Linked DNA regions of Homo sapiens: all the other regions are linked to region 2. Evidence: fine-mapped expression QTL. A gene starts in region 2. Each other region holds a variant in brackets. All regions are shown on one strand. Distances are between the middles of the regions. Region 1 overlaps BBS4 (Bardet-Biedl syndrome 4). Region 2 holds the start of ADPGK (ADP dependent glucokinase). Region 3 has its middle 21 kb from the start of ADPGK.

What was found. PIP is the estimated chance that this variant, and not a neighbour inherited with it, causes the effect.
Region 1: its variant is fine-mapped to the expression of ADPGK in whole blood (TOPMed, PIP above 0.99).
Region 3: its variant is fine-mapped to the expression of ADPGK in NK cells (Schmiedel 2018, PIP 0.95).

Annotation. Positions count from the first base shown.
Region 1 is chr15:72,728,386-72,736,566 of GRCh38, reverse strand. BBS4 (Bardet-Biedl syndrome 4) reads right to left here. Exons shown (of 16, transcript NM_033028.5): 10 at 6,883-6,951; 11 at 5,110-5,262; 12 at 4,841-5,012; 13 at 1,385-1,454; 14 at 601-742. Among named protein-coding and RNA genes, the nearest start is that of BBS4, 46 kb to the right of the region's middle. The variant T/G (reference allele first, on the strand shown) is at 3,903.
Region 2 is chr15:72,780,420-72,788,600 of GRCh38, reverse strand. ADPGK (ADP dependent glucokinase) reads left to right here and starts at 4,843. Exons shown (of 7, transcript NM_001365225.1): 1 at 4,843-5,142. The coding sequence starts at 4,910. It overlaps ADPGK-AS1 (ADPGK antisense RNA 1), which reads right to left and starts at 5,766. Exons shown (of 3, transcript NR_040107.1): 1 at 3,405-5,766; 2 at 1,008-1,179. RefSeq lists enhancers at 4,318-4,527, 4,578-4,637, 5,398-5,467 and a silencer at 4,688-5,147.
Region 3 is chr15:72,800,875-72,809,055 of GRCh38, reverse strand. No RefSeq gene overlaps it. Among named protein-coding and RNA genes, the nearest start is that of ADPGK, 21 kb to the right of the region's middle. RefSeq lists an enhancer at 974-1,870. The variant TG/G (reference allele first, on the strand shown) is at 3,528.

The DNA.
Region 1 (8,181 bases), 52 kb after region 2:
CTCAAAACCCAACAATTCAAGCCTGGTGCATTACCGGGCCAAACAGTGCATTTCCTACAACAAGTGAAATAGGGCTGGGCACGTGGATCACGAGGTCAAGAGATCAAGACCATCCTGGCCAACATGGTGAAACCCCGTCTCTACTAAAAATACAAAAATTAGCTGGGCGTGGTGGCACGCGCCTGTAGTCCCAGCTACTTGGAAGGCTGAGGCAGGAGAATTGCTTGAACCCAGGAGGCGGAGGTTGCAGTGAACTGAGATTGCGCCATTGCACTCCAGCCTGGGCAACAGAGCGAGATTCCGTCTCAAAAAAAAAAAAAAAAAAAAAGTGAAATAGAAGGAAGCTACAGACAGACACAGACCTCAACTTTGATGAGTTGAATTAGCAATAACAACTCAGTAAGCCTGAATTTCCTTTTATTATTATTCTAGGAAAGTTTTTCTCAGGCTGTTATTAATTGATGAACTCATGCTGCTAGGAACATCAAAGCCAGAACAGCCATGAACGTGTAATACCTTGGATTTGGATGATCTGGGCTTGATTTTTAAAAGTCTCCTGAGAGCTTACTTATGACTCTTGGGAGCTAATAAAAGACATACCTCAGAGTCAAATTCCAGAGAGCTATTGTCCTTGAGTAGGCTGACTTTCTTCTCCATCTCCTGATATTGGGCCAGGGCGTTCTTCTTCTCGCCCTGGTTGTACAGCAGCACAGCATAGTTCAGGTTTACTAAAGGGTTACACCTGTGGCAGACAGAGATTCTATGGAGCTGGGGGCTCTGCAACAAATGGTCATTTAGAGATCCTTCTCATTACACAAAAACAAAACAAAACTGGTTAAGTAGAGATTTCTCCATTATGCAGCAAGGTAGGTACATACGTGCTAAGCAGACCTGTGGAGAAGAATCAAGGAGTTAATGGCCTAACAAGCAAAGCTGGTATTGGGACCAAATCTGGCATCTCAGCCCTCAACAGAGACTACCTAGGCCAGGGTTGAAAAAGGGATCTCTACCCTGCTGTCTAGAAGATGCCAGCGGAGTAAATCCTGGAAGAGTCAAGTTTTATCTTGAATTAAACAGCCCAGAGTCCCATCTGATATTCCAGCTAGCCCATAGCTATCAGCAACCCAAGCCCACTGCCAGTTCTGACATTCTCTAGCCTCCTGATTACTCAGTTTAGGACTGGAAACATTTTCTCAGAGTGTCAATTCCTGCTGAGCCACCACATACTTAGGAGACACATCCCTCCACACTGAGGTCTGCTATGTACTAATGCCATAGAGGAACAGCTGGGCTGACACAGGCAGCACCAATGCTATGTATGGCACCACCTCATGGCTTTGGAGAGTCCAACCCCCGCCAGTACCATTCTCAACAAAGTGCATACTTATCCAGGTGGACTGCTTCTGCGTAGGCTCTCTTGGCATTTTCTATATCTTCCAGATTGGTCAGAGCCACTGCAACAAAGAAAGCACTGCAGCTGGAGAGCTCAGCTTAGAAGACAAAAGGAGTATTAAAGACTACCCCCAAAGTAAACTTCACCCTGTCAGCTCATGGCACCAGAGTTTACTAAGTCAGCTTAGATACCTGGTGCTATCTTCAACCATCTCTTCTACAGTCAATCAGTTGCCAGGTTCTATGCATCCTTTTTTTGCAGTTTCTTTTCTGACACTGCCCTTGTTCAGGCCCAAGTAGTTTTAGGCTTTCCATTTATTCCCCAGTGTCAAAGTCCCCACCTGCCTCCATTCCACCTTCCACAGCGCTGCCAGGTATCTCACTGCCTTACAAATCTGACCACATTACCATCCTACTTAGGAATCCTCACTGGCCCCCCACATCTATAACCATGATCTTTACACTTTCATTTAGCAGTAAAACACTCCCCCCACTTTTTAAAATCAGTATTTCCTTGACACCTAATATATAAAACAAAAACAGCTGCTCTGGAAGCCCTGCCCATTCCACCTCCCCACCAGCTATGCACTCACTCCTACCAGGCACCTAAGAGGAGATCTAGGAAGACAGCTGGACAAACATGGCCTCTAAGATAAAGTCCTTGCACTGTACGCATGACCTCCATAATCTGACCCCAGAATATCTTTCCTGATTCATCTCCCATCATATTCTCTAACACTAACCCCCACTAACAGCAAGGGACACTGCAGTTTCATGGCTGCATGCCTTTCTTCACAGTGGCTCCTCAGCCATTCTGTGCTATTCCATTTTAGCTTGTTGTTCAGGATCCAGTTTGAATGCCATCTCTACTTTGTAAAGTTAGCATCGCTGTTATCTCTTACATTATGGCTGTTTACATTTCTGTGTTCCATTAGAACCCAGCTATCTAAAGAAACTATCAACACAGTAAACAGACAATGTACAAAATGGGAGAAAATATTTGCAAACCATGCAGGTCTAATATCCAGGATCTATAAGGAACTTAAGCAAATTTACAAGAAGAATACAATCCCATTAAAATGGGCAAAGGACATAAACAGACACTTCAAAAGAAGTCATGTATGCAGCCAACAAGCATATGAAAAACTCTATCACTGATTAGAGAAATGCAAATTGAAACCACAGTGAGATAACCATCTCACACCAGTCAAAATGGCTATTATTAAAAACTCAAAATATAACATCCTGGTGAGGCTGCAGAGAAAAGGGAATGCTTATACACTGTTGATGGGAGTGTAAATTAGTTCAACCATTGTGGAAAGCAATCTGGCAATTCCCCAAAGAGCTAAAAATACAACTACCCTTCGACCCAGCAATCCCATTACTGGGTATATGCCCAAAGGAATGTAAATCGTTCTGCCATAAAGACACATGCATGTGTGTGTTCAATGCAGCACTATTCACAATAGCAAAGATGTGAAATCAACCTAAATGCCCATCAATGGTAGACTGGATAAACAAAATGTAAATGTACACCATGGAATACGACACAGCCATACAAAAGAACAAGATCGTGTCCTTTGCAGCAACATAGATGGAGCTGGAGGCCACCATCCTTAGCAAATTAATAAAGGATAGAAAACCAAATCCTGCATGTTCTCACTATAAGAGCTAAATGATGAGAACACATGGAGACACAGAGGGAAACAGACACTGGAGCTTACTGGAGGAGGGGGAGGGCCAGAAAAAAATAACTATTGGGTACTAGGCTTAGTACCTGGGTGATGAAATAATCTGTACAACTAATCCCCATGACACACGTGCCTGTGTAACAGGATGCACATGTACCCCTGAACCTAAAATAAAATTTTTAAAAAAAGAGAGAGGAATGGAGTCTCACTGTGTTGCCCAGGCTGTACTCCCAACTCCTGGGCTTAAGCAAACTTCCTGCCTTAGCCTCCCAAGTAGCCAGCACTACAGGTATGTACCATCACACCCCACTTTAGCCTTTTTATTCTGATGTTTTGACATCTGGGGCCTTACTGACCCTGGGGAGACTGTCCCTCCCACAGTCAGCTAATTCCTAGATATAACCCCTACAAGAGTACCTTCTGTATGCAGACCGACCAACCCAGTGTTCATATTCTTAACTGCCTCCTTTACTGGGCCCTGACACTGGGCCAATATTCCCTAGTCCTAGTCACCCGAGGGTCAGGTACCAGACACCTAGAGACAGCCCTATAGCCCAGAGCCCACTGAAATTATTCAAACTGGCCAATCCCCAACCTGGTTAACCTGCTTTCCCGGTCTTGCCCCGGGGAGGGCATTTCTACCCATGAAAACTACAATAAAGAATTGTGCCCACATTTACCCCTTGCTCCCTCTACCTCCTGATTGACCTGGTGCTTCCCCATGTGGCCCTGCACGGTGTAGCATGCCCTCCTTCTCAGGAATTGTAACAGACTATCTTTCCAGTGGCAGATGTCTTCTGATCTGTTGCCCATACCATA[T/G]CTGAATAATAATAAAACCTATGTTTTTTTTTTAAAGTTATCTTTGTATTCAGGCAACCCTCAAATAACCACAATTGCTTTTGCAAGCTTTCTCTTTTAAATAAGAACCCACAGTAATGAACAAAAAGCCACTGGAAGACGACTGCCAAATGAGGACATGGAAATCTGCTTTGGGTCTTACATTTAGTAAGTAAATGTATATGGAGAAAAAAATTCCTAGAAAGACTAGTCAGTACTTTAAAATGGTTGTGCATAATTGTTAAAGTGTTTGATTAATTTTAACTTATTTTTATGATCAATTTTAGTATTTGCATGGCATAAAATGGAGTTTCAGGAAGAGAATGGCATTCTATATAACATGCTCAGAAGAGATAAGGGTTTCAACATAAGGTAGCTTGACTTGGAAGTATCACCTAGGGGCCAATTATAGTAACAACAATATTGATAATAATAGACCAATTATATAACCACAGTAAAACCAACAGTTTTCAAAAATCAGTATTTCAACAAAACCAGTATTATTAATTGAGAGCTTAATCATGCAATCCTCACATCAGCCCTAGGTACATATAATAAGTAGTAGAGGCAGGACCCTACCTAAAACCCAAGCTCTTAACACTTGCTGTCTGGAACTTAGTTGGACTCAATATATACATAAATGAATTGTCAAGGCAAGAGGAAAAAACTGGTAAAAGGTGAACTAGGGATGATCTTTATTTAACCTGTTGGTCTCTGAGTCAAACTCCCCCAAGTTAGAAACAACCAAGTTCCTTTGTCATCTTTTTCTATTTCTTCAAGCTCCAGGACAGTAATCCAGATTCCTACAGGATCTCTAAGGGAATGGCTCCTATGAGACAGCCACTGATCTTCTATGATTCTAATCCATTTTTCCCTCATTACAGATGGCAGAGAGAGTTTTCCACATAAATGTTTCTTACCTGCCAAGAGCATGTAGAGCTCCCCCATCTTTGGCTGGAAGTTGATGGCCGCACTGAGAAAATGAAAAGCTGATGCATACTGCTGCATGGTCAAATGGACAAGGCCCAAATTATACAGAATCTTCCAATCAAAGGGTGCCAAGTAGTTGGCTCGTTTCAGGCAGCTGATGGCCTATGAGAGAGAAGGGGCACTCAATGAGAAGGGCAAGCTAAACAGACCCAATAACCACATGTAGAAATACAAACAAAGAACATGAGGGGACACTCACCGCCACATATTTCTTCTTGCCAAAGAAACACATTCCAATGTTATTCCAGAGTGGAGGACTTTCTGGAACAGCACAAGCCACAACTCTGTATTTGGTGAGGGCAACATCAAAGTCCCCGTGGGTCTGCATCATGCTGCCTGCTGCCAAGATGGCCTGAAAACATGGCACAGAGAAAGTCATTCAGTCATTCCCAAAAGGCTGTAGCAGTGGGGCAGCTTTCCTGAGTCTATACTCAGCAGGCCCATCAGCATAGATGGGACTGGAAAATTTCTTCCAGGGACATAAATATATCCAACCTATTGGGACAAATGTTCCTGAGGAATGTCCTTGCACTCTACACTGTGGCTCTCTGGCACAGCACAAAAAAAAAAAAAAAAAAAAAAAAAAAAAAAGATAAAATGTTACTTGCTTTACCCATCTGTTTCCTACTTCTAGCCAGGAAAGTCAGTATTTCAGAATGAATACCAGAGCCCTTTAAGTAAAAACTTCCTTTAATCTGTTCTCTGCAGCCCCTATTTGGTATACCAAGTGTTCTAGATACCTGAAATACACCTGTACGTGGCTACTTAAGGTAAATTTCTTTCTACCGTAGAACAGAGGGCGAGTCAGCTTTAGGCTTCATCAGCCCAGCCCTTTCATTTCTCTAAGGAAAGGTATCAAGGTGGGAGCTGACAGTCTAATGTTACTTCCTAAATCAGAATTCAGTTTGTATCCTTTAATAAACAGCTTGTCTTGCTGCATCTCCTCAATGATGTTCATCCATTTGATGCTATTCCTTCTCATTCCCAAAGTCACATCTAGAAAAAAAGTTGTAGTATCAAATCATTAGGACTCTAGAAGTCATTTCAACATAATTATTGTTTCTTTTTAGAGACAGGGTCTCTGTCACCCAGGCTGGAGTATAGTGGTGCCATCATAGCCCACTGTAGACTCAAACTCCTGGGCTCAAGTGATCTTCCCTCTTCCACCTTCCGAGTGGCTAGGACTACAGGTGTGTGCCACCATGCCTGGATAATTTTTTTTGTAGAAATGGGGGTCTCACTATGTGGCCCAGCCTGGTCTTGAACTCCTGGCCTCAAGTGATCCTCCTGCCTCAGCATTCCAAAGTGCTGGGATTACAGGCATAAGCCACCATGCCCAGCAGATTTATTTTTTTTATTTTTTATTTTTTTTTTTTTTGAGACAGAGTCTCGCTCTGTCACCCAGGCTGGAGTGCAGTGGCGCGTGATCTCAGCTCACTGCAAGCTCTGCCTCCCGGGTTCACGCCATTCTCCTGCCTCAGCCTCCCGAGGAGCTGGGACTACAGGCGCCCGCCACCACGCCCGGCTAATTTTTTTGTATTTTTAGTAGAGACGGGGTTTCACTGTGTTAGCCAGGATGGTCTCGATCTCCTGACCTCGTGATCTGCCCACCTCAGCCTCCCAAAGTGCTGGGATTACAGGCGTGAGCCACCGCGCCGGGCCGCAGATTTATTTTTGACAATAGTTGTGGAGGCATTGCTAATTTCCTAAGTAACACATAAGCTTTACTAGCACTATGATCTGCCTTCTGCAGGGGTTACACGTCTATTATAACAAATGTGCACTTTTAGAAGATAAGTAGAGCATACTTGACACTATTTTCAAATAAGAAGAGCCACCTTTTATTTATATTTTTTCTATTTCTCAGGTATCCAAATTTAAGAAGCTATTCCTTTGCTTTCCAGGGTCAGATCACCTCTAGGAGCAGTGGGACCGTCTATATGAAGGCCAGAGCCTTCACAGCCTGTAATACCTTGTAGTTGGTAGGGTCATAAGTCAGTGCATTGCCAAGATGTTCAAATGCCTTCTGGTAAATGCCGAGCTTGGAAAAAAAGCAAACAAGACAATTTACATCAGCAAGGAGACGGCAGTTAAAAGAGTCTGGCCAGACCAGGCGTGGTGGCTAATGCCTATAATCCCAGCACTTTGGGAGGCTAAGGTGGGTGGATCACCTGAGGTCAGGAGTTCGAGACCAGCCTGACCAACATGGAGAAACCCCATCTCTACTAAAAATACAAAATTACCCAGGCATGGTGGCACATGCCTGTAATCCCAGCTACTTGGGAGGCTGAGGCAGGAGAATCGCTTGAACCCAGGAGGCAGAGGTTGCAGTGAGCCGAGATCACGCCATTGCACTCTAGCCTAGGCAAAAAGAGTGAAACTCCGTCTCCAAAAAAAAAAAAAAAAAAACAGTCTGGCCAACCTCACCCAGAACAGAAATGCTCTGGCTTTTTTGAGTTCTCTTGACTTTAAAAAAAAAAAAAAAAAAAAAAAAAGCAGCTACAGTTACCAGATAATAAAGAAAGAAAACTAAAAATCCCCAGTCATGGTTTTCCTTCTATTTTTGTTAATTTGTCACCTGATAAGGTCAAAGTATCTATTTGATAAGAACCATCTCTGCCACACTAGTACTGTTCCACATTAATGCCTCTTTGCAGGAAATGAGCTGGGTATCCTCATCTCCCGTGGAGCCAACCTCCCAAGCCAAAGCCCAGGAAGACCCAGGGTTAAGCTCCTGATTCCTTTTAAAGAAAAATGAAATAGACATAAAGGCCACCACAGAGGCAGGGCTGGAGGCAGAATCAGCTGACCAAGGAACTTGGCAAATGTGTATATTGGGGAAGAGGGAAAAGCCCCTTGGATACCTGGGCCCTGGGTCCTCAGCCAGAGAATCAATGGAGCTAAAAGAATCCCATTCACATTCAGGAATGTTGAGGGGACAGAAAACTTCTTATTCTAGATAAAAGTATACTTTGCCTTCTCTCTTTCCAATAAGACTCTGGCTGGGAAGAAAGATCAAAAGAAATGGCTTTGCCCCAAAGCCCTAAGTGCTCACTTGTATCTGTTTCTCTCCTCACAACAAAATAACAGCCTCCAAGACCAGAGTTATTTCTCATATATGCTCTTTCCTGGATAGCATAAGAATTTTTTTTTTTTTCTGAGACAGGATCTGGCTCTGTCACCCAGGATGGAGTGCAGTGACTCAATCTCAGCTCACTGCAACCTCTGCCTTCCGAGTTCAAGCAATCTTCCCATCACAGCCTCCCAAGTA
Region 2 (8,181 bases):
TCACGATCCTGAGTATGGGAAGATTTTTTAAATAAGTAACAAAAAGCACCAATGATAAGGGGAAAGTAGTAATAAAAAAAGAACAAAACGGTAACTACACTAAAAACGAAGAACTTTAAGCCTGCGCATGGTAGCTCACAACTGTATTCCTAGCACCTTGGGAGGCCAAGGCAGGAGGATCTCTCGAGGTCAGGAATTCAAAACCATCCTGGGCAACACAGAGAGACCCTATCTCTACAAAAATACATAAATAAGAATAATTTTTCATAGAACTCTACTCACTAAAGATATTATAAAAAGAATGAATAGACAAGTGACTGGGAGGGAGGCAAGATACTTGCAAATAACCAACAAATGGAAACTTGTCAAAACCACAGTAAGATACCACTACACACCCTACAAAATGACAAAGCTTTAAGAATCTGTTGGAGTGTAGCTGGAGCAACAGAAATTCTCATATGCTGCCAGTGGGAAGATAAACTGGCATACCACTTTGGAAAGATGTCAGATATTATATAGTAAAGTTGAAGACAGGCATATCATATGACCCAGAAATGTTACTTTGTTTCTACCCTGAAGAAATGGCTATACACGTGTACCACAGCATATACATAGCAACACTGTATGTAATAGTAAAAAAACTGGGAAAACTCCAAATCGTCTATTCATAGTACAATAGATAAATTTTAGTATTTTCATTCAGTGGGATATTACATAGATGCTAAGCCGTCAAAAAATAGAAAAGGCTACTGCATAGTGACCTATGCAGAAATGGCTGTCTTCCTTATAGTAAGAGAGTGACAGACCAGCAAGAAAGACTAAAAAGAAAATTAAATATAGCTCTCAGAACCAACCATAGCAACAGCAGGGAATGTTTTGAATTCCAGCATGTAGCAGACACTGTGCTAGACTGTCTTAAGATAACTCTACCTCCCACAACCATTCTGCAAAGTAGGAATTATTTTGCATATAAGGAAACTGAAGAACAGAAAAGTTAAATGACTTACCTGAGGGCACACAGATAGCAGGTGACAGAGTGAAGATTTGCAGCCAGGAATCAAATCCCACCTTCTTTCCATTGAAGTATGAACTGTTGATTGCAGCAACCATTCACCACCCCTCCCTTCATCCAGAACCCTGATTTTGTTAAGATGTACTGCCTCTTCCGTGCTGTCCACCCTAGGGATGGCAGAGCAAAAGACAGAACAAGCATGGGCCCCTGAGGACTCTCTCTGGCAATGCTGCCAGGCCATCCCAGTTAGATGTTTTTGCTTCCTTTTATTTATTTTTCCTTTATTTTAGTTTTAGGCCCAGTGGTTGTAGAACTGCTAGGGTTCTTGAATCAAAAAGAAAATGTAGTTAGAAGGCAAACTTCCCATTTCCTTCCAAACCATTGCAAGTAATACTGAAACCCAAACCAGATCACTACAGCAGATGCTACAAGGGCTACAACAGGACTGGTTTACGCAGCCTGCAGAAGAGAACCCAAGCAGGAAGGCCTGTGAGTGTAAAGGGCTCCAGCAGGCAGCCTGGTAGCAGTGTTCCGGGAAGCCTGAGATGGCTAAGAGCACTGTGAGGGTGGAGGCCTCTGCTTTATCCTGCCCCGATTCATTCGCCCTATGAAGCTCATAGGTCCCTGCCAGACAGAAGCCCACACAGTCCTGTGCCTCCTGCCTTTCTAGGCTCAGCGCTTCTTCCTGGTCCAAAGCAGTTAATTTCCAAAGTGAAAATTCCGGGCCACTATGTTGTCACATCCCCTCAAGCTACAACCCGGTTCCCAGTCTGTGTAGGAAGTTCTATTACTATCAAGAAACTCTCATGTTCTTCTTACTGCTTTGCTGCTGACGTTCCTCTCATCTGGCTCCTGTGCCTCAACACCCCTGCCTCTCCCCTGCACTGGCCAGAGGCAGTCCATCCTCTGAGCACTTCTAGTCCCCTCCTGACCTCACATTAGTGAGGAGGATGTCTGATTGCCAAGGGCTATGGCTACAGACACAAAGCTTTCTCTTTTCGGGGGCTGGGATCCTTTATTCCATCTCTTCAATCTCTTTGGAGTTTTCTGTAATCTTCAAAATTGTGCTCTGACTCTGGCCTTTGGGCATGGCCTGTGGTGGGCTGTGTCCCTGGCATCAACAAAGGCTTTGACACAGTGTGGCCTTCAAAGAGCAGCTTGGATGAAACCCCAGAGGCCTGGAGCTGCAAGGAAAGTGGGTTAGCCCAGCTTTCACAGGGACCATTTGGTCCCACTTTAGTTTCTGCTCCACGTGGGAACAAATGTGCCCCTTAAGGCCTTTCAGATTGCGGGGGTGACGCTGATGGGTATTTATGTTAAAGCCAAAACCTTCAGCTAATTTGGAAGCTGACAGGATTCTGCTAATTCTTTGTGTTCATACAGGATCTGCTCCCTGGCCTTCCAGGTCAGGATCTTGGGTGGGGCACCTGGAGCCTCCATTTGCCTCTGAATTTTCTAGAACCAAATTGCTTTTCTTCTCTCATTTCAAGGTCCTAGGAGAGAGAACCAATAGGAAAGGCCATGTCTGGAAGCAATTTGGGTGGGGGCGGGGGGTGTCTTGAGGCCTGCCCAGCCCAGCCCTTTCCTCTTTGTTCAGCCTAGGCAAAGGAGCCACAGCTGCCCACTCAGAGCTGTTTTAATTGTCCCCAGAAACCTAACTTCTAGAAAAACAATTGGCTTGCAAAGGATTCCAGACTCTCTGAACAGATAGATGATCAGAATCTTTTCTGATTTTCGTTAAGGAAATATTTCAAGAGGGACTGTGGCACCAAGACAGTGAATGCCTGCCCCTGAGCCCCGATGAGAAGGAATTAAGGGCCCTGTGACTCTGTATGTGACCAGAAGCCACATCAGGCTCCGCCAGGCCTGGCAACTGTCCCTGGTGTTCTGTTCTTCACCTCCTGCGGCTCCTGACTCTTCAGTTCTCAGTTGGAATTGAGGTCAGCTCTCTCGTTTCCTTGTCTGGCCCCCTTCACCACCCACAATGCAAACCCACACTGAGTGACTAACCAGCAAGAGGCCCACAGCAGGTCCCATAGCAACCAGAGGGGGCCAAGCTTGCTACCACAGCCCACAACATGCCAACACCCCATTTAGACTTTTACATGAGAAATAAACATCCACTTTGTTCAACTGCTGTTGTTTTGTCTCTGTGACTAAATCAACAATTCTGGCAAATCTAGAAAGAAGCAGAAGAATTAGGTGCAAAGTGCTGGAAGTTTAGCAGCCTCTCGTGGGAGCAAGAAAGCCCCAGGCAGGTTTCTGTCCACATCACTTTAATGTGGAGCACTCTCCTAGTCCTCTAGATCTGTCTGTTCTATCACCTTCCCACAGTTCAGCTTCCTGTGCTCCCCAAAACTTCACCTTGGAAACATATTTAACTGGTTCTGACCTTTAGCCTTGTGTGACTTTGTGGGTCCACAGCCAATATCAAATAACTACAGACAACAGAAACTTGGTTAAAATTCTCAATAGAGGGAAATGATCGCTGGACAGTCAGCAGACTCGCTGTTTTCAGGTCAGCTGCTGGCTCAGTCCCCTCTGGGTGCCAGGGAAACCTGACAGCTGAGGGTTGTGAGAAGAAGCAGTTTCTCTAGGAACTGACTGACATGTCTCCCTAAGGAGAGAGAAGTGACAGGCAACTCTAGGGAAGATGGCTTTCATGGCTTCATAAAGATCTGACTGGCTCTTTGGCTTCTTTTCCAAGGTAGCCCAAATCTGTTCCTGTGTGAATATCTTTGTCGAAAGGGATGGCATGGTCAGGTAGGCTGGGTAGGATGAACTGCGGGAAGGTAGATGACCAGGATGGGGAAGTTCTGATGAGGTGGGGCTGAGGAGAATGAAGACTAATGCCCAAGATCAAAGTTAGGGAAATAAAGTTTCGCTGCCAAGTCCAAAGGTCAGGGTCACAGTGGAAAACTGGACACAAAGCCAAGGTCAGGAGCCGAGAGAATTGGAAAAGTGGAAACAAACCAGGGAACAAGACTAGGCCGGGCATTGTGGCTGATGAGAATGAGCTGGTACCCAGCCTAGCTTCACTGTCTCTCAACCTAGCCTCATGCACAGAAAAGTATCAGCGAAGAGAGGGCTGGGTTTAAGTGATGTCACCAAGGGGGAACAAAAGAAAGCAGCGTTTCTCAACCCAGGTCCATAACTCTCGTGTTGTGCACAAGATTGTGTACATTTTCCAGAGTTTGTTAAAGGGAACAGCGCCCCCAAAAGGGTTAAAGTTTGATTGTGGAATAATCTGGTTATCCAGAAGAGAACGATCTCTGCGGGCTCTCCTGTCTCGACGAAGTCCTTTAGTGGCTGAGGGTCTCGGCCACCTTCCAAAGGGGCGGAATCCCCCTGCCTCGCGTACCCCAGGGGTCTCGGCAGCGCCGCTATTCTGTGAGCCTATTCCTCTCAGAAGCGCCGAGCACTAGGCCTGGAAGAGGACAAGTCTAGCAAATGAGGGGACACGGGCGGAGGGAGGGATTAAAAGATGGGGGTGTGATCCGTGCCAATGGGGACACCCACTGGTTCGAATATTAACGCGAGGTTTGTCCGCTTCTTCACAATCTGTCCGTTTCGTTTTACTGCGAAAGCAAATGTGTTCCCATCCCTCTATTTGGGGATACGATTAGAGTTCCGGGAAGGGGGTGCAGCGCCCGGACTGGCACAACCGCCGTTGTCCCACCTCCTCCGGGGCGGCAACACCGCAGTGCCAGGCCTGGGACTGAGGCGTGGGGTCCCCCCTCGCTCCGTCCTGGCGCCGCCCGTCGCCCCGCCCCTTGGGGGGCCCCGTGGCGCACCCTTGTGACGTAGCGCTTGTGTCGACATCGGCGCGCGCCGAGCCCGGAAGAGGCGCGGGCTAGGAAAGGAGTTGGTTCGCGCAGGTGCGGCGCCTGGGTCCCCATGGCGCTGTGGCGCGGCTCCGCGTACGCGGGCTTCCTGGCGCTGGCCGTGGGCTGCGTCTTCCTGCTGGAGCCAGAGCTGCCAGGCTCGGCGCTGCGCTCTCTCTGGAGCTCGCTGTGTCTGGGGCCCGCGCCTGCGCCCCCGGGACCCGTCTCCCCCGAGGGCCGGTTGGCGGCAGCCTGGGACGCGCTTATCGTGCGGCCAGTCCGGCGCTGGCGCCGCGTGGCAGTGGGGTGAGTGCCAACGGGGCCTGGGTCTCTGAGCCTCCGAGGTCGGCCTTGGAGGTCGGGCGGAGCCGCGCAGAAACAGGGCTTCTCAGAGGTCCCCGGGAGGCGCTGCTGTCCGCGCTGGCCCCTTGGCGAGAAGTGTCGGACGTCTGAGTGGAACCCGGTTCGTCACCGCTGCTCTTTCCACTCGGCTGGCCTCTGCGCCTTTCTCTCATCCCGGTAGGACCAGCCCTAACAGCTTCTTGCTAATCCCGCTTTGTCTGACACCTTTCTCCGAGCCTTCTTCCTCGTTCCAACTTTTAGCCCCTTCTCTTCTGGCGACTGTTGTTTTGCAATCAAAGATACTTGACCTTACCCACTATGACAACACTCTTCCTCTTTCTTCTGAACTTCTTGAAGACGCGTGATGTCTGCCTTTACCCACTTTCGAAACGCCGTGTAGTCTAGAAACCACACGACTGTACTGCAACTCCTCTCAGATTTGCCTTTTTGAATCTTCATTATCTACTCTGCAGCCTTCCACGCATTGAACACGCCCTTCTCCGTGAAATTCTTTTCTTCCCCTGACTTCAGTGACACTGCATATTTAAGGTTCTTCCAAATGACACTACCTCCTTTCTTTGTACTTTTCCTTGGGAATGTAATTATTTTCTTTATAGTATTGATACTGTAAACACTAACTTTAGTCCCTGTCTCAGTTCGATTTGACTTTCTTGCCGTAATCTCAGAGTTATGTATAACCACCACATAAAAGCAGGCCCTCTACCATGTAGCTCACTACTTTCTGTGGAGTGTTGGGGCCGGGAGGGGTAAAGTAGAGCAAACTTGGCCTGAAGATTAAATGACATCATTCATGTAATCTCTCTAGCATAGTGCCTGCTTTAAAAAGCATTCGATATTAGCTATAATTTTGGGGTTTTTTTTTTTTTTTTTTTTTGGACACAGGGTCTCTCTCTCTGTCGCCTAGGCTGGAGTGCAGTGGTGCAATCACTGCTCACTGCAGCCTCGAACTCCCGAGCTCAAGAGATCCTTCTGCCTCAGCCTCTGGAGTAGCTGGGACGACAGGCAAGCACCACCACGCCCAGCCAATTTTTTATTTATTTTATTTTTTTTAGTAGAGTCGAGGTCTTGCTATATTGCCCAGGCTGGTCTCGAACTCCTGAGCTCAAGCCAGCCTCCCATCTTGGCCTCCCAAAGTGCTGGGATTAAATTGTCCTTCCTTGCTTTATGCGCGTTCATTCAGCAGATATTCACCAACTACATGGTTAGTGTCAGGTCTGTGCTAGGTTCTTAAGATACAGAGATGGGTGAAGCAAGGCCCCTGTCTCACTTGTTGGAAACATATTATTGTATCAGTCATTTGGGCTGCTAGAACAGAATACCACAAATTAGGTGGATTAAACAACAAATCTGTTTTCTCGTGGATCTGGAGGCTGATAGTCCAAGATCAAGGTGTTGGCAGGATTGGCTTCCGATGTGGCCTCTCTTCCTAGCTTGCAGCCAGCTGGCTTTTCAGTTAGTCTGCGCATGTACACTCCTGGTGCCTCTTATTCTTCTTATGTGGACACTAGGTCCTTTTGGAATAGGGCTCACCCGTATGACCTTATTTAACCTTAACTACTTCCTTAAAGGCCCTACGTCCAAATATAGTCACATTGGGAATTAGGGTTTCAGCATATGAATTGGTGGGGGGTGGACAATTCAATCCATAACAATTATGGTTAGAAGAGGAACAACCCACGAGGACCAGGCAGAAGCCTTAATGCCTTTTACGACCTTACCTTAGAAGCACATAGGAACTCTTCTACCAGAGTCACAGGTCCACCTGGTTTTAAGGGAGGGGACATAGAACAAACCTTGATGGGAGGAGCATCAGTGTCACATTGTGAAAAGAACATTTGGAATGGGGCATCTTATTGCCACCATCTTGGAAAATATATTTTACTACAGTGACTTTCATAGGACAGACACTAAATAAATGAGATTTCTTCAAGCCAAAGTGGGAACAGGTCCACCTAGGCAAGAGAACCAAATGTGAAAAAGTACATGGTTTGTTTGGGAACAGGTCGGCCTTGTTTTGGAGCGAGAATCCTATGGTAGAGGGTTGTAAAGAGATGATGCTGAGAACGAAGGGTTGGACCAGATTGTGAAGGGCCTTTTATGGGGAAGCCATAAAGGTTTGTAAGTAGTTAACTGATGACAAGTTCTTTGTTGAGAATTGGTGGGAATGTGAAGGGTGGATTTTGAGCAGTGGTTCTAAACTGTTTCACTGCTTCTCATCATTTATTACCCAAAGAGGATTTTTAGCCCAAAGATAGGGGGATATAGGAGGGATGAGGGGGAGCAGGTGTAGTACTTGTATCAGAATCTCATTTTGAGGTTGTAGTTTGACTTCTCTAGAGACACACTCGTATTCACACTCTCTGTCACACAGACACACTCAAAATGCCATTTAATGTGATTCATAAGGAGGAATATCTTGACATCCTGACACTGGTTTAAGAGGCCATTGTAGGGTTTGTGTAAAGGGAGAAAGGAGCCCGAACCAAACTCGGCAATGATGTAGAAGAGGTGAGATTTGAGAGATAACCTGAATAATAGTTTGGATGTGGTGGAGTAAAGAAAGGCAGTCAAAAACGACAGGTTTTTAATATTGGATATCTTGTTTAGTTTTTGTTTTCTGTTTGAGACAGCATCTCACTCTGTCACCCAGGCTGGCGTGTGCAGTGGCATGTTCAAGCTCACTGTGGCCTTGACCTGTCATGCTCAGTGTCCCGAGTAGCTGGAACTACAGGCATGTACCACCACACCCGGCTAATTTTTATATTCTTGGTAGGGACAGGATTTGCCAAGTTGCTCAGGCTGGTCTTCAACTACTGGGATCAGGCCTTGGCCTCCCATCTTGGCCTCTGAAAGTGCTGGAATTACAGCTGTGATTCCACACCCAGCCCAGTATTAAATATCTTATAACAACTAATATGGTTAGGCTTTGTGTCCCCACTCAAATCTCATCTTGAATTGTAATCCCCATAAGCTAATCAAGGG
Region 3 (8,181 bases), 20 kb before region 2:
ATCAAGATCATTCTGAGACCTGGACTTTGCCTGAAATTTCACCCTTACCTGACTTCCTCCCCTTCCCTGTCCTGCTTCCCTGCTTCCTTGCCCTGTTTCTCTCGGGAGCACTTCCACAACAAATTGCTTGCATAAGAATCCTCATCTCAGGGTCTGCAACAGGGAACATGAGGACATTTTAACTACACATCCTAGTCTCACAGGGAGCAGACCTCAGTGAATGTATATTAGAACAGATGGGATTGGGTGGGAGAAAACAGGGTGGAAAGGGAGACGCTGTGTACAGACAGCTCTTTTGAGGGGCTTTGCTACAGAGGGGCTAAAAACTAACACGGTCATTGGAGAGAAATGAAAGTTGTATTATATTGCTATGTAACACAGAACCTCCCAAACTTAGCAGCTTAAATTTATTATCTCATAGTTTCTGAGGGTAACGAATGCTTCAGAGCAGTCCTGACTCAGTTTCTCAAAAGGTTGCCGTGAGAAACTCCAGCTGAGGCTGGAGGACCTGCTTCCAAACACTCACATGGTGGCTGGCCAGAGTCTTCAATTCCCCTCCACTTGGGCCTCTCCACAGGGCTGCTCATGATCCTGCTCCCCCAGTTTGAGTGATGAGAGAGATAGGTGTTTTGAAATGTGTAGGCAAGAACTGGGAAGGACATGCTGTTAATAGTTGCTAAAAGTCCTTAACTCATGGAAATGGGATTGAGGAGCACAGGCCTGTGAGGATGATGAAGGCAGACTTCCACATTCTATACTTCTGAATTCCCTTGTTATTTTAAAACATTAAAGGTGAAAGCTTAAGTGAATTGGCAGTAGTTGGTAATGAGTAAAGCTACATCTACTGGAAAAATATCAATGAGAAGGAGAGATGATAAGGGCAGGAAATTGGAATTGGGTCCTTAAAAAATGTAGGTGAGTCCCTCTCCCTCTCCCTCTCCCCCTCCCCCTCCCTCTCCCTCTCCCTCTCCCCACGGTCTCCCTCTCCCTCTCTTTCCACGGTCTCCCTCTGATGCCGAGCCAAAGCTGGACTGTACTGCTGCCATCTCGGCTCACTGCAACCTCCCTGCCTGATTCTCCTGCCTCAGCCTGCCAAGTGCCTGCGATTGCAGGCGCGCGCCGCCACGCCTGACTGGTTTTCGTATTTTTTTGGTGGAGACGGGATTTCGCTGTGTTGGCCGGGCTGGTCTCCAGCTCCTAACCGCGAGTGATCCGCCAGCCTCGGCCTCCCGAGGTGCTGGGATTGCAGACAGAGTCTGGTTCACTCAGTGCTCAATGGTGCCCAGGCTGGAGTGCAGTGGCGTGATCTCGGCTCGCTACAACCTCCACCACCCAGCCGCCTGCCTTGGCCCCCCAAAGTGCCGAGTGCAGCCTCTGCCCAGCCGCCACCCTGTCTGGGAAGTGAGGAGTGTCTCTGCCTGGCCGCCCATCGTCTGGGACGTGAGGAGCCCCTCTGCCTGGCTGCCCAGTCTGGAAAGTGAGGAGCGTCTCTGCCCGGCCGCCATCCCATCTAGGAAGTGAGGAGCGCCTCTTCCCCACTGCCATCCCATCTAGGAAGTGAGAAGCGTCTCTGCCCGGCCTCCCATCCTCTGAGATGTGGGGAGCGCCTCTGCCCCGCCACCCCATCTGGGATGTGAGGAGCGCCTCTGCCCGGCCGCGACCCCGTCTGGGAGGTGAGGAGTGTCTCTGCCCAGCCGCCCCGTCTGAGAAGTGAGGAGACCCTCCGCCTGGCAACTGCCCCGTCTGAGAAGTGAGGAGCCCCTCCGCCCGGCAGCCACCCCCTCTGGGAAGTGAGGAGCGTCTCCGCCCGGCAGCCACCCCGTCCGGGAGGGAGGTGGGGGGGTCAGCCCCCCGCCCGGCCAGCCGCCTCGTCCGGGAGGTGAGGGGCGCCTCTGCCCGGCCGCCCCTACTGGGAAGTGAGGAGCCCCTCTGCCCTGCCAGCCGCCCCGTCTAGGAGGGAGGTGGGGGGCCAGCCCCCTGCCCGGCCAGCCGCCCCGTCTGGGAGGTGAGGGGCGCCTCTGCCCAGCCGCCCCTACTGGGAAGTGAGGAGCCCCTCTGCCCAGCCAGCCGCCCCGTCCGGGAGGGAGGTGGGGGGGTCAGCCCCCCGCCCGGCCAGCCGCCCCGTCCAGGAGGTGAGGGGCGCCTCTGCCCGGCCGCCCCTACTGGGAAGTGAGGAGCCCCTCTGCCCGGCCACCACCCCATCTGGGAGGTGTACCCAACAGCTCATTGAGAACGGGCCATGATGACAATGGCGGTTTTGTGGAATAGAAAGGGGGGAAAGGTGGGGAAAAGATTGAGAAATCGGATGGTTGCCGTGTCTGTGTAGAAAGAAGTAGACATGGGAGACTTTTCATTTTGTTCGGTACTAAGAAAAATTCTTCTGCCTTGGGATCCTGTTGATCTGTGACCTTACCCCCAACCCTGTGCTCTCTGAAACATGTGCTGTGTCCACTCAGGGTTACATGGATTAAGGGCGGTGCAAGATGTGCTTTGTTAAACAGATGCTTGAAGGCAGCATGCTCGTTAAGAGTCATCACCACTCCCTAATCTCAAGTACCCAGGGACACAAACACTGCGGAAGGCCGCAGGGTCCTCTGCCTAGGAAAACCAGAGACCTTTGTTCACTTGTTTATCTGCTGACCTTCCCTCCACTATTGTCCTATGACCCTGCCAAATCCCCCTCTGCGAGAAACACCCAAGAATGATCAATAAAATAAATAAATAAATAAATAAATAAATAAAAATAAATAAATAAATAAAAAATGTAGGTGACAAAAAAAAGATACATGGATGATTTTAGAAACATGTATGATTTCCTGGGAGCACGTGGTAAGCTCTAGAACTGCTGCTGACCCCTGGCAGAGTGTGAATGGGAGTTCCTATCTCTGCTAAGAAATCCCAAGGCCTTCTGGGGAGCTGCCCCATCCTTTCTGTTCCCCCACCGCAGGGAGGCATCAGCTGTACGTGGACTCCCTGGTGCTGACAGCTTAGCCCAGGAGAGGTCCTGGCTGGGTGAAAGGCCACATCACATTCTCAGAGTTGACCCCCAGCTCAGAAGCTTCCTTTCTCGGCATGCATTCAAGGCCCCTCATCATACACTGATATGGGGCCCTCAGGAAGGAGAAGGGGCTGCAAGGCTGGTGGAAATGAAGGGGCCGTGGGGAGCTAGACTTGTATCAGGACAGTAAGAGAACAGAGAACTTGGCGTGAAATGAGAGCTGCATGGCACAGGCAAAAGTGCTCACACAGAGACTGAAAAAGACTGTGGGGCAGGATTCAGCCTCGTGGTTACCGGCACCACTCTTAGACAGAGGCAAGAGGGGGTCCCTACCCTGAATCTGGTGACTCCAGTGACTCGAAGCAGTCCTCCACAGAGAAGTGTGGTCGGTGGACCAGTGCCAGCCCACACGTGGTCTGTTACTTGTTCTTGATGAGTTACACACAGAAACTAACAGTAAGGTTATATCTGTTGAATCTTTAAAACTTGGGGCTTGTAACTTGTATAGATTTTTTTTTTTTTTTTTTTT[TG/G]AGACAGAGTCTCACTCTATCGCCCAGGCTGGAGGGCAGTGGTGTGATCCTGGCTCACTGCAGCAGCCTCCTGGGTTCAAGCGTTTCTCCTACCTCAGCCTCCCGAGTAGCTGTGATTACAGGAACCCACCACCACGCCTGGCTAATTTTTGTATTTTTAGTAGAGATGGGGTTTCACCATATTGGCCAGGCTGGTCTCAAACTCCTGACCTCAAATCATCCACCCACCTCAGCCTCCCAAAGTACTGGGACAGGCGTGAGTCACCCCACAGGTCCTCATATAGATTTTTTTTAATTTCATTTTTCTAGTGAATTATTTCTAGTGAATTATTGAATCAAATAATTGATCTGTATTGGGTTGGGAAATTAAAAACTAATAATTAGAAACTAAGAAGCCCTACTTGAAAAGGTTGCATATATCACAAACACCCATAAAATGTATTGGTTATGGAGCACATGGGATCGAGTGCTCAGCGCTGGCATAGCGCTGCTGGCAACAGAAACGTCAGTTCCAATGACAACACCGGTCAGGTCCCAGGGAAATGCGGCTCCTCACCTTTTGCCCTGTGTCCTCAAAACAGAAAGCAACCATGTCTGAACGTCACGGAGGTTTCTGGGTTGTGCTTCCGCCAATATTGGAGACAGACACTGCTTCAGAGAACAGGGAGGATTTGAGTGGCGGAAGCACTTAGGTAAGGGAAAAGACAAATTTATTAGCTTGTCAAATCCTTTATCTCTGATAGCAAGAACGCAATCGTTTCTTGCACAGTGAAATACCATTTCCCAGTAGGGCCACACGTCCATTTTCATGTTTCTCTTTGTGCTCCAGTTCGTGGTTCAGGAGGTCTCATGAATTAGTGTGGTATTGATTGTTGTACAGTGGCTGAGGAACATGTGTGCAATATGAACACTTTATTTTACCTTCAAATCAGTAGAGGTATAAGTGTAGATGTAATATGTACGAAGCTATTCTTCATGTTAGTGCATAAACTATTACCTTAAAAGATAGCAAAAATTGCAGTATGATAGAAATTTCTATTATGAAGTTAAAATATTTTGTAGTATTTTCTGCAATAATTACAGTTTACCTAACACAACTCTACTAAAGTATTTGAACAGGATATGTAAAATTCATGGTTCATTTCCAAATGTAAACATCGTTTTAAGATTTTAATGAAAATTCCATTTATTCCTGAAACTTTCTCCAAATTGAAATTAATTTTTTTAATTATCTAAGAATTACAACTCAAAAAAGGTAGTCTAATTTGGCGTCATCATCAATAAAACACAAATTGTGCAAAAATCTTGATTATAACAACATAATTAGGTAATTTTGCAATAAGGAAGGTAAGAAAAACAAATCTAATGAAAAGATAAATAATAATTTGAATGATTTACAATATAAATTTGGTATATGCTGACTTTATAACTTACCAAAACATCACCAGCCCATCAACAGAATATCCAAATAGATGCACACATAATTAAATTCTGTCATCTTTACTATTTTACCAATTTTTGTTCATATAAAAATCGTAGTGCTATACTTTTTAAAAATTTTGATCTTAAGAGGGCATATTTTTCAAGACAGAAAGATGGAACTTTTTATCTAATAGTTTATTGGCCTAGTTTATGATTTTAAATATTTATACATATGCTACGGGGGCTTTCACTTAGTGTTAAAGGCCTGCTTAGGGCTACCTTCCTAAGCTAGGCCAGGGCTGCCCAACAACTGACCGAATGTTAGGGAATTGACTCTATATTTTAATTCACCTAAGAGAGAGCAATTTTTAGGTAGACAGAGATATGACAAACACAAACTTCAGAAGAGAGGCATGATTTTTAGAAATAATTATTTGCAATTGATTCCATGTCTCCTTTGTTCTTCAGTTAGTAGAGATATTTGCCTGCCTTTGGCTTAAGAAAGCCATTTTAAATGAGACCCGCAGTGGGTGTCAATAAGAGCTACCTCTGTGATCCTTTGTTGATGTCACTTCTTTGATACTGGAGGGATAGGAACTGAGTCCCGCCAAGAGGGGACATGGGAATGTCTGAACTCTAAATAGTCACTTCTCCAAAGCCTGCTCTGGAATCAATGCTACTAGCTCAGGCTAGGAGGAAGAGGGCTTCTCATCATCCATGACTCTGCCCACCCCACTCCCAGACCACCCCCTCCAGATGTGAAGACCTCCTGTGAACCAGCAAGAGTTTACCCCAGCCCTCTAGACTGTGAGCCTCAAGGGAAAGTACCACCATTTATACCATTTCCCTGCTGAGAGGCACAGGCTTTGTTTTCTGTGTGTGTGCATGTGTGTGCATGCATGCACACCACGAATGCACCTCTGCAATCAATGCTGCAATAACCACCCTTCTACATGGACCCTTAGGTGGATCCTTCTATTTCTGTGGAATAGATTCCCAGGAGTGGGATCACTAGGTCAAAGGATATATGTATTTTTAATTCTAATGGATTTTTCCAGATTGATTGCAAAAAGGCTGTAATAATTTACATCTCCACCAGCAATGAATGAGAGCATGCTCCCCACAACCTCACACACAATACCTATAGAAACTCTTTTTAATTTTGCCAGCCTGAAGAGCATAAATGAGTATCTTATTACTACTTTAATTTGCATTCAACTGAATTCTAATGAATCTGAGCATCTTTCCATCAGTTGGATATTTTTCTTCTTTGAATCACCTACTCATATCATTTTGCCTATTTCATTATTGGATTGTTTGTCTTTTCGCATCAATTTATAAGAGTTTTTTGCATACTATAGGTATTAGCCTTTGTCCATCATCTGCATTACACTTTTTCCAAGTCTGCTTGTCTTTTGACATTGCTTACAGTATCTTTTCCCACAAAAATGCTATATATATGTGTGTGTATGTATATGTATATATATGCAAAAATACCTTTTTCATCTTCTAGGTTTCCAACCTTGGTTGAGAAGGTATTCTAACCTTAGATTATATGATGCCTCCTTGCCAAAATTTTTATTGAGATATATGTATGAAATAATGCACATCTTTTTATGGATCAATAAATTTTCACGAGGTGAACACACTCATGTAGCCAGGACTGAAATCAGGAAACAGAATCTTACCAGTACCCTAGACATTCCTTCAGTTCACACCCCCTTGCCAGTCACAACCGTCCTCAAAGATTAACCTCTACCCTGACTTCTAACATCGTAGGTTAGTGTTTGAACATTATTTAAATGAAATATCCATGTGTACTCTTTTGTATCTAGCTTCTTTGACTCAGCATTATGTTTGTGAGATGAATTCATGTAGTTCATTCATTCTCGTTGCTGTGCAGCAGTCCTGTATGTAACATACCACACTTTATGTTTTACTGTTGATAGACGTTTGGGTTGCTTCCAATTTGGGGCTATTACAAATAGTGCTGCTATGAACATTCTTGCAAACTTTCTTTGGTGAATTTATGTCTGCATTTCTGTTGAGTATTTACCCAAGAGTGTAATTTTTGGGTCATAGAGAACGTGTATGTTCAGCTTTTGTGGATATTGCCAGTCATCCAAAGTGGCCGTTATCAATTACACTCTCACCAGTAATGTAAGAGACTTCTAGCTGCTCTACACCCACCCCAATACTTTCTATCATCTGACGTTTGCATTTTAGCTACTCTGGCAGGTACACGCTAATGTTGCATTGTGGCTTGTCTTGACAGATAGTTAACATTTTATTTTTTACATTTTTAAGCCCTTAATCCCTCTGGAATTTTATCTTTGTATATGGCTAGAGATAGGGGTTCACTCTGGTTCTCTTCCAGGCAAACAGCCAGATGTGTTAGACTAAATACTATGTCCTTTGTCCTGATATGTTTTGAGGTATAAGTGAGCATTTGCCAGGTACAGTGGAGTGGGAGAGAACATTCCAGGCTGCAGGAGCTGCACAAGCAAAGGTACGGAGGCACGAAGTATCACGATGTGTGCAGGAGATTGCATGAGTGTGGTGAAAATTAAAAACGTGTGGCCGTGAGTGGCACAGGAGGGCAGGCAGGACTGGACTTTGCCATTCTCACGGTGGTACACAGGCACAAGGCTGCTGCTGAATGGACACACTAAAGGAAAAAAGACTCCCTCCTCCTCTAATGTTTGGGGATGTTCTTTGAGATCCTCATTTTGAAAAGGTGTCATTATCAAAACGTCACCCTTAAGAGAGGGAACTTCTGTGTTGACTGAGACGCTTATTAAGATCCATGATACGTATTGTTTAATTTACTCATCACAATGACTTCATGATGTGGGCGTTGTTTCCCTTGATTTACAGATAAGGGAATGAGGTACAGAAAAATTAAGCAGCTTGCCCTTGGACACATAGCCAGTAAGTGGCAGAATTAAGGATGAAACAGCCTGTTCCTCTTCCTGTGTTCCCGCTCTTTCCCCTAGATGCACTGCCAGTAGATGCATGAATTGAACTTCCAGCCACTTCCCAAATAATGCACATGTGATGAAGCAGAGATTTACAATCCTTGCATCAGCCCCTGCCAGCAGACCTCTTGATGTCTGTTTCCTTTTCCCCAGTCACACAGAGAGGTTGATTCCTTGGGAAACTGAATGACTGTTGCAGGCAGCAATTGTTCCTTCAGCTGAAAGGCATGCAGAGTCAGACCAGGGTGGCTGG